Linked DNA regions of Homo sapiens. The protein of the gene in region 1 interacts with the protein of each later gene in a pairwise test. Each region holds a gene or a part of one and is shown on either strand. Other genes may lie near its edges.

Region 1 (3,821 bases):
AAATTTGGACAGTGTGTGACTGTGCTGAATAATGTGGGCAGTTGTAACACAACAGCAAGTATTTGTGTATCTAAACATAGAAAAGGTGATGTGTTGTGCTCCGATGTTACAATGGCTACAACATCATTAGCAATAGGAATATGTCAGTTCTGTTATAATTTTATGGAACCACTGTAGTATATGCAGTCTGTAGTGTACCGAAACACCATCATGTGACACATGTATGTACACAGTGGATATACACAGGTGATCTGCAAATATTATGCCATTTTATATCTGAAACTTCAGCATCCTCAAATTTTGGTAGCTGTGGGAGGTCCTGGAACTAACTCCCATATATACCAAAGGATGACTGTATATAAAACTAGCCTATAGAAGTTGGAAATCTTTCTAAAATTGAGGCTAACTCTGAAGTTGACTTCCTTTTCACATTATTTTCCCTCTTGATTTGTTTTAATCATTAACCTTATTTCAGATTTTTTGTATTAGATATCAATATCTCCATCATCACTGACTCCTGACACACGCATTCACACACACACACACACACACACACACACCCAGACCCTATGTGGGTCTAGAACTTTGTATTAAGTAGCTGTTTAAACACTTTGTGTACATTCTGCAGTATGCTTGAACTCTGTTGAAAGTATTTCAGTGGTCCCCGTGTGGTGGCTCACTCCTGTAATCTCAACACTTTGGGAGGCCAAAGCAGGCAGATCTCCTGAGGTTAGGAGTTCGAGATCAGCATGGCCAGCATGGCAAGACTTCGTCTCTACTAAAAATACAAAAATTAGCCTGGCGTGGTGGTGCACGCCTGTAGTCCCAGCTACTTGGGAGGTCAAAGCAGGAGAATCACTTGAACCCAGGAGGTGGGGGTTGTAGTGAGCTGAGATTGCACCATTGCATTCCAGCCTGGGCAACAAAACGAGACTCCCTCTCAGAAACAAAAAAGTATTTCAGTAAAATCTATGTATTTGAAATAGAGTCACATAGAAAGTAGAGCACATGGGATCTTCAAAATATATTGGGTAGAAAAATCAGAAAACAAAAATTATTATTCATTCAGAAATAAAGGAGAAGAAAAAAGGGAATAAAAAACTTCAAGGTCAGACTATGTAAAGGTGCCCTGAAGGATACAAAGATTAGAAAGCTTAGACGCTGCTGGATACAGATATGTAAAAGTGTGAGTCAGAATACTGAAAGTACCCTAATAAGTGCTTTACGTTGTAATCACATGGGAGGGATAAATGGGGGTTCAGAAAATTAATGTTTGATGCACTAAGGTAGGAATGGGCCAACTATGGCCTATAGGCCAAATCTGGCCTGCTGCCTGTTGTTACGTCCTGTGAGCTGAGTGTTTTTCTCATATTTAAACGGATGGAGAAGAATCAAAATATTTTGTGACACATGAAAATTAAATGTAATTCAGTGTCCATAAATATTGGCATGCACCCACACTCAGTTTACATACTGCCCAGTTCACCTATTGCCTGTGACTATTTTAGTGTTACAGAGGCAGAGTTCATACTCTCTGGCCCTTCACAGAAAAAACTTGCCAAGCACTGCCTTAAAGCATCTATTGAATATAACGAATTAAGTCTTCTCCTGTTTATCTAGAATGATATCAGCTAAGTACTGTCCTGGGGGAAATTGACAAAACTCATACAAATAATTTTTCTGATAACCCAGGAGCTTGGGTTGAGAAAAACTGGATTAAGTCTTACTGTGACATTGGTAGAAAGGTTATTGAATGTCTGGCACGAGTTGTGCCTTGAAAAAATGGATTTCAACCAAGATTGGCCTGTGGCAATCTTGAGCAACTATGCAGAGACAGGCAGTGGGAAAAACAATTCAGGATGGCAATGGGAGCACATTCTAGAGATTACAGAAGCTGGTGTAGAAAAGCAGGATGAAAAGTTAGGTTGGGGCCAAAAACCAGAGAAGAAAAGTACACTGGAAAAAGGATTGAGTATCAAGTGCTGCAGAGGATCTCAGAGGTCAAGAATTTAGAGCGGAACGTTGAGCTTGGCCTTCAGGAGCATGACTGTGATAAAAGGCCAGCTGTGAAACCTGTAGGAGAAATGATGACCCAGATAGTGCTGAGCAGCCGGCTGGCAGCGTTCTTGGGGTCCCTGTGGGGATGCAGAGTGGTACAACTGCAGATGGGGAAGCAGCATCATTATTAACCTGTGTTTATATGACATTCAGAAAAATATATGATGGCCTTTCTTTCTCTTTTCCTTTAATATTAGTGTTCTAGAACAGATCAGACATTTTGTAATGATGCCTGAAATAAACACTAACCACCTCGACAAGCAACAGGTTCAACTCCTGGCAGAGATGTGTATCCTTATTGATGAAAATGACAATAAAATTGGAGCTGAGACCAAGAAGAATTGTCACCTGAACGAGAACATTGAGAAAGGTGCTGCTTTGAAACAGTCTTTCTTGTAAAGCGATTTGTGTAGGCATTTCCGATTTGCTGAGAAGAGCACTCTGTTCAAGGAAGTGCAGTCTTCAGTAATACCGTATTTTCTCGTTGGTTCCAGTTCGTTAAATAGTGTGGTCATTAGCATCTGCTTTGCTGTCTTCCTGTTACAGCGATTTCTCTTCACTTCATGCCTGTTACTCGGCTTCTTCAGAGTTATTCTGGATTCATAGAAGAGGGACTAGCCCTGACATACAGCAGCAGCCTAGCCTCTAATATTTCTAGAGAGTGGAGAGAGGCGGGCACCATGCAGGGAAGCATGTGCCTTCACCACTTTCCGAGAACTGAATGTCCTTGATAGGGAACTTGACTGCCGGAAAGGGGCCACCAGCATCACCATTTCCTTCACTCGACGGCCAACTTCCTTGCCCAGTGCAGAGCTCTTCCTCACCATAGCCATGCAGAGACTATGCATGTGGATAAACCATGGGAAAAAGCAAAAGCAGCAGCAAGTTACTAATGTTATTCTGAACTGCAGGGAGAGAATTTGGCAAATAACTGGTACTTAAGGCTAAAATAATTGTTATTTCTTTTGCTTTCAGGATTATTGCATCGAGCTTTTAGTGTCTTCTTATTCAACACCGAAAATAAGCTTCTGCTACAGCAAAGATCAGATGCTAAGATTACCTTTCCAGGTTAGTACACTTTTAATGTACAATATTGTGTTTGTACATTAATTTGACTTTTTATCATTCTGAATTCTTGGAGCCAAGGTCACAAAGGGAAATCCTGTGAATGGCATAATTTTATATTCTGCATAAAGTGAGTTTACACAATGAGTGCAACCTAATACAACAGCAAGAAAAAATAAGAACTAGTAAGCAATTGGGCAATATGTATAATTTACATATTTATCTTTAATCTGTATTATCTACACTTTGATCTTTTTTGGTTAAAGAAGTATTAATAAGGAACCTACCTACAAATGTAGTCTGTTTCACAACATAATTACTGATAGCCCATTATAACCAATTTTAAAATCCTTAAAATAATTACTGATAGCCCATTATAACCAATTTTAAAATCCTTAAAATAATTACTGATAGCCCATTATAACTGATTTTAAAATCCTTAAAAATCATTTCATTTTTCAGTTACTTATAAAACTTTTTCTTGATCTTTCAGACCTACTTTGAAGAAAAGTTGATCTGTCTCTGTATTACCATTTTCCAGGTTGTTTTACGAATACGTGTTGTAGTCATCCATTAAGCAATCCAGCCGAGCTTGAGGAAAGTGACGCCCTTGGAGTGAGGCGAGCAGCACAGAGACGGCTGAAAGCTGAGCTAGGAATTCCCTTGGAAGAGGTAACCAGCTCTCCTACACAACCATA
Region 2 (3,821 bases), on another chromosome or scaffold:
CCAGGACAAGTCCCCACAAGTCTTTATGCTTTGCTTTGCCCATCTGCAAAACAGGTATAGTCTTACTCTTCTGTAAGAGGACTGTCATGTGATGAAGATAAAGTGAAATACAAGCTTTCCTAAGAAAATCCTGTATCACAGGTCAAAACACGCATAAGGCATGCAAGTACTGAGACGAAGCAGAGTAGACACACCCAATACCTGAAAAATGTTCATTGGTTTTACTAGAGTATTGAGGAGGGTCCTGCTGACACCCCTTGGGCTGGAGAGGCCTCCTCTGAAAGGGAGCCCTGGGAAAGGGCTGCTCTCACTCTTCACTCCTTTCTCCTCCCTCAGCTCCACCTGTTCCTCAGGTGCCTGCTCTTCCCCGTGAGGGAAGCCCAGGAGACCAGGCAGCTGCGCTCTTGACAGCCAGGTACCAGGTGAGCTGAGGAACCCTCTGCTTTTCCTCAGGGACTATTGCTACTGATGGAGTGTGGCCTCTCTCTCATCCCATCTGTAGACCTTGCCTGGAATTTTTTTCAATAGCAGACTCCAGTTTGGGAATTGATCCTCTTCGGAGACCTGGACTTCACATAAACCAACTTCCCATCTCCCCAGTGCCATGAGCAAACTCTGTTTTCTCTTTGTCCATGGTTGTGTGATGGGTGCTTATTAGATGTTTAAGGGTTATGGGCTTTATTCCGTAGGTTCTAATCTGTTCTCCCTCCTCCTCAACGTAAGTACACAGTGGATACCCTCTCTATGATCTTCATTCTCTGGCCATGGTGCTACAGTGTTCTCATTCCTCAGAGCAGCCAGGATGTGTTATTTCAGGAGTTTGTGACATTCGAGGATGTGGCTGTGCACCTTACTCGAGAGGAATGGGGATACCTGGACCCTGTTCAGAGGGACCTCTACAGAGAAGTGATGTTAGAGAATTATGGGAACGTGGTCTCACTGGGTAAGGACTTCCTTATTATTCGGTTTATCTATTTGAATTTCTTTACTTTCTTGTTTCTTCCTAAGTATAAGGTCTCTGAGAAGGTCTGTAGAGTGTGGCTTAGATTCCAGGACTTAGAACCTCTGAATCCTTATCTTTCACATCGTCTTCTCCGGGAGGGGTAATTAACGTTTGTTTGGGGGTGCCAAGAAGAGACATTCTCCTCCTTATCCCCAGTTCATGTTTATGGCCATTGTGGGGCATCTTTTCCCTTTTAGCAAAGGGAAACTTTCTTGTGCTTTGCTTGATTTCTCACCGTTCTTTTCTTTTCCATTTTTGTAGGAGAGACCCCAGGGTGGCCTCCCAACCTCCAACCAGACACTTTCCTCTTTGTTATCTCAGTGTCCCTGTATTAGAGAATTGAAGAATTTCCCATTTTTCTAGGAAAAAGAAATGCCGTTTATTTAAAAAGACAGGCTAAATTCCTTCTTGTTGAGTAGTCCCTCACCCCTTAAGATCCCCAGATGTATCTCCAAGCAGGCAGAACTTGAGATGTCATTTGAAGGCATGACTCACTGTGAGTACATTTCAGTGAGTCACCCAGAATGGTAATCCCACGTAACCACACCCAGGGCAGCAGAAATCTCAGATGTTTACCCCATGCTGAGGTGGGGTCAATGCTTAACTCATGTCTCTCCCTTGTCATTTTGAAAGGTACAGTGGGAAGCTGGGATTAGCCAAGCTGTAGTGCTGCTGGGAAGCATCAGTGGGGTTTGTCGGCAGCTCCCTTGGTGTGAGCATTGTTCCTTTTTCTTTAGTTTATTTTTTATATTATATTATATTTTTTATTTTATTTTATTTTTAGATGGAGTTTCACTCTTGTTGCCCAGGCTGGAGTGCAGTGGTGCAATCTCAACTCACTACAACCTCTGCCTTCCAGGTTCAAGCGATTCTCCTGCCTCAGCCTCCCAAGTAGCTGGGATTACAGGCATGGGCCACCACGCCCGCCTAATTTTGTATTTTTAGTAGAGACGGGGTTTCACCATGCTGGTCAGGCTGATCTCGAACTCTTGACCTCAAGTGATCCACCTTCCTTGGCCTCCCAAAGTGCTGGAATTACAGGCATGAGCCACCGCACCCAGCCTCCTTTTTCTTTAGTTTCTTGCTTGCTTCTGCACTCTTCTTTTTGTGTGTGTAAATACTGAATCATGCATTTTCTTTTCTTTTTTTTTTTTCCGTTGGCTTTGTCTATGCTGGTGGCATCCAGGGCATTGCTTTGTCTCCCTGATTATGCTCAGGATTCAAGGTCTTCTTATTTGTGGGGAGGCAGGCTGCCCACTGGGACGGTTTTTAGTGTGTTTTCCATTCCTGGCTCTTTAATCTTTGTAGGCATACTTCTCCGCCTTCCCACCACCCGGATTCATAGTGTGAATTCCTGCCCGGCCCTGAGTCATACCCAGGCAAGTGCTTTCTCTGGAGAAACACTTGCCGTCCTTACAGCAGGAATCTCCAAGAGATGGCCCAAGTATCGGCTTCCCATCGATATTGCTCGTCCCTGCTCGGAAACTCCTTTTCCACGATTGTGAGATATTAAAATTGACTGATGGAATAGAAGCTCCCCAGGATGCCACCACTGTGTAAAATCGCAGCTCCTCAAATTACCTCTGTTTAATTTCAAATGTTAGGGTCCAAGGAAGCCCTCTGTTGCAACCAGATATGTTTTGAACCCAGTTCATTCAGAAACCATGGTTGGTGGTCATCATCTACTTGTATTGTGAAAAACCAGAAATTCCAAATTCAGCTCTTCAGTTATGGTCTTTTCATATTATTTTAGAATGTGAAACTTATGCTGTGTGCCCCTCCTTTTATGTGGCGAACACAACCTGCCCCGTATGGTGCCTAACTCTCCTGTGAACCCTGGGCTTCCCTCATGTTTAACATTCTGGTTTCCTCCTTCCTTGAAGTCCCTGTGGCCCTCTTCAAGGTCCTACCTTCCTACCCTTTATTCTTTGTGGTTCTGTACAGATTGATGCAATTATATTGCCTTTCCTGATTAAGTGTTCCTTACTCTGTCCTTGATGGAGGGGAGAAGGGAGGGCAAAGAAGTTAAATTTATTTCAGGGCATCAAATTGAATATCTACTTAATAACTTTGTAAACTGTAAAGTGACATACATATAATTGTAAAGTACTGTTAATTTTATCTAATAATTACAGAGTTTCCAACAGTTAACCTGTCTACTTTTTGGAGTAAAGAAACTTTGTAGCAGTTTAATGCAGTCTAATAGCATAGTATGCTATAGACTGAACTTTATCCCATTTCCTCTCTTATCTCTGCACTGCACACTCGACATGCAGTCGACATGCATACACACTTTTACACATACAAGAGACACGCACAGTGCAAGAAAGCCTTCTACTCATCTTGCTTTTGTGATCAAGTTAGCAGCATCTCCTTAGCAGTTATTTTTACAATCCTTGGGAAATCATTTTCATATTTTTGGGTTCAGCAGACTTCATCTGAAAATTAACCCATTTATGCCTAGTGTTCCATTATTGGAACACTAAGCTTGCGGGAATTATTTATGTCCCGCTGCTCAAGGTCATCGCCAAGGTCTGATTTTTAACAAAAATTGCAACCTCCAGCATAACTGGGTTAAGTTTATACATTTATTAATTTAACTTTTTAGGGTTGTAAGACTTTTTTTTTTTTTGAGACGGAGTCTTGCTCTGTTGCCCAGGCTGGAGTGCAGTGGCACCATCTCTGCTCACCGCAAGCTCCACCTCCCGGCTTCATGCCATTCTCCTGCCTCAGCCTCCCAAGTAGCTGGGACTACAGATGCTCGCCACCATGCCTGGCTAATCTTTTCGTATTTTTAGTAGAGATGGGGTTTTGCCAT

Evidence for each region.
Region 2: the proteins of IDI1 (region 1) and ZNF655 interact in binary tests that used the Homo sapiens proteins (3 or more experiments, as listed by UniProt).

The regions. Positions count from the first base shown.
Region 1 is NC_000010.11:1,042,606-1,046,426, reverse strand, and holds part of IDI1 (isopentenyl-diphosphate Delta-isomerase 1), read left to right. Parts: intron 1-2,225; exon of another isoform or gene 2,226-2,255; coding exon 2,256-2,428; exon of another isoform or gene 2,429-2,917; coding exon of another isoform or gene 2,918-2,939; intron 2,940-3,033; coding exon 3,034-3,126; intron 3,127-3,664; coding exon 3,665-3,795; intron 3,796-3,821. UniProt on the Homo sapiens protein: Catalyzes the 1,3-allylic rearrangement of the homoallylic substrate isopentenyl (IPP) to its highly electrophilic allylic isomer, dimethylallyl diphosphate (DMAPP).
Region 2 is NC_000007.14:99,561,552-99,565,372, forward strand, and holds part of ZNF655 (zinc finger protein 655), read left to right. Parts: intron 1-336; coding exon of another isoform or gene 337-422; exon of another isoform or gene 423-744; coding exon of another isoform or gene 745-943; intron 944-2,311; coding exon of another isoform or gene 2,312-2,508; exon of another isoform or gene 2,509-3,154; intron 3,155-3,821. UniProt on the Homo sapiens protein: Probable transcription factor.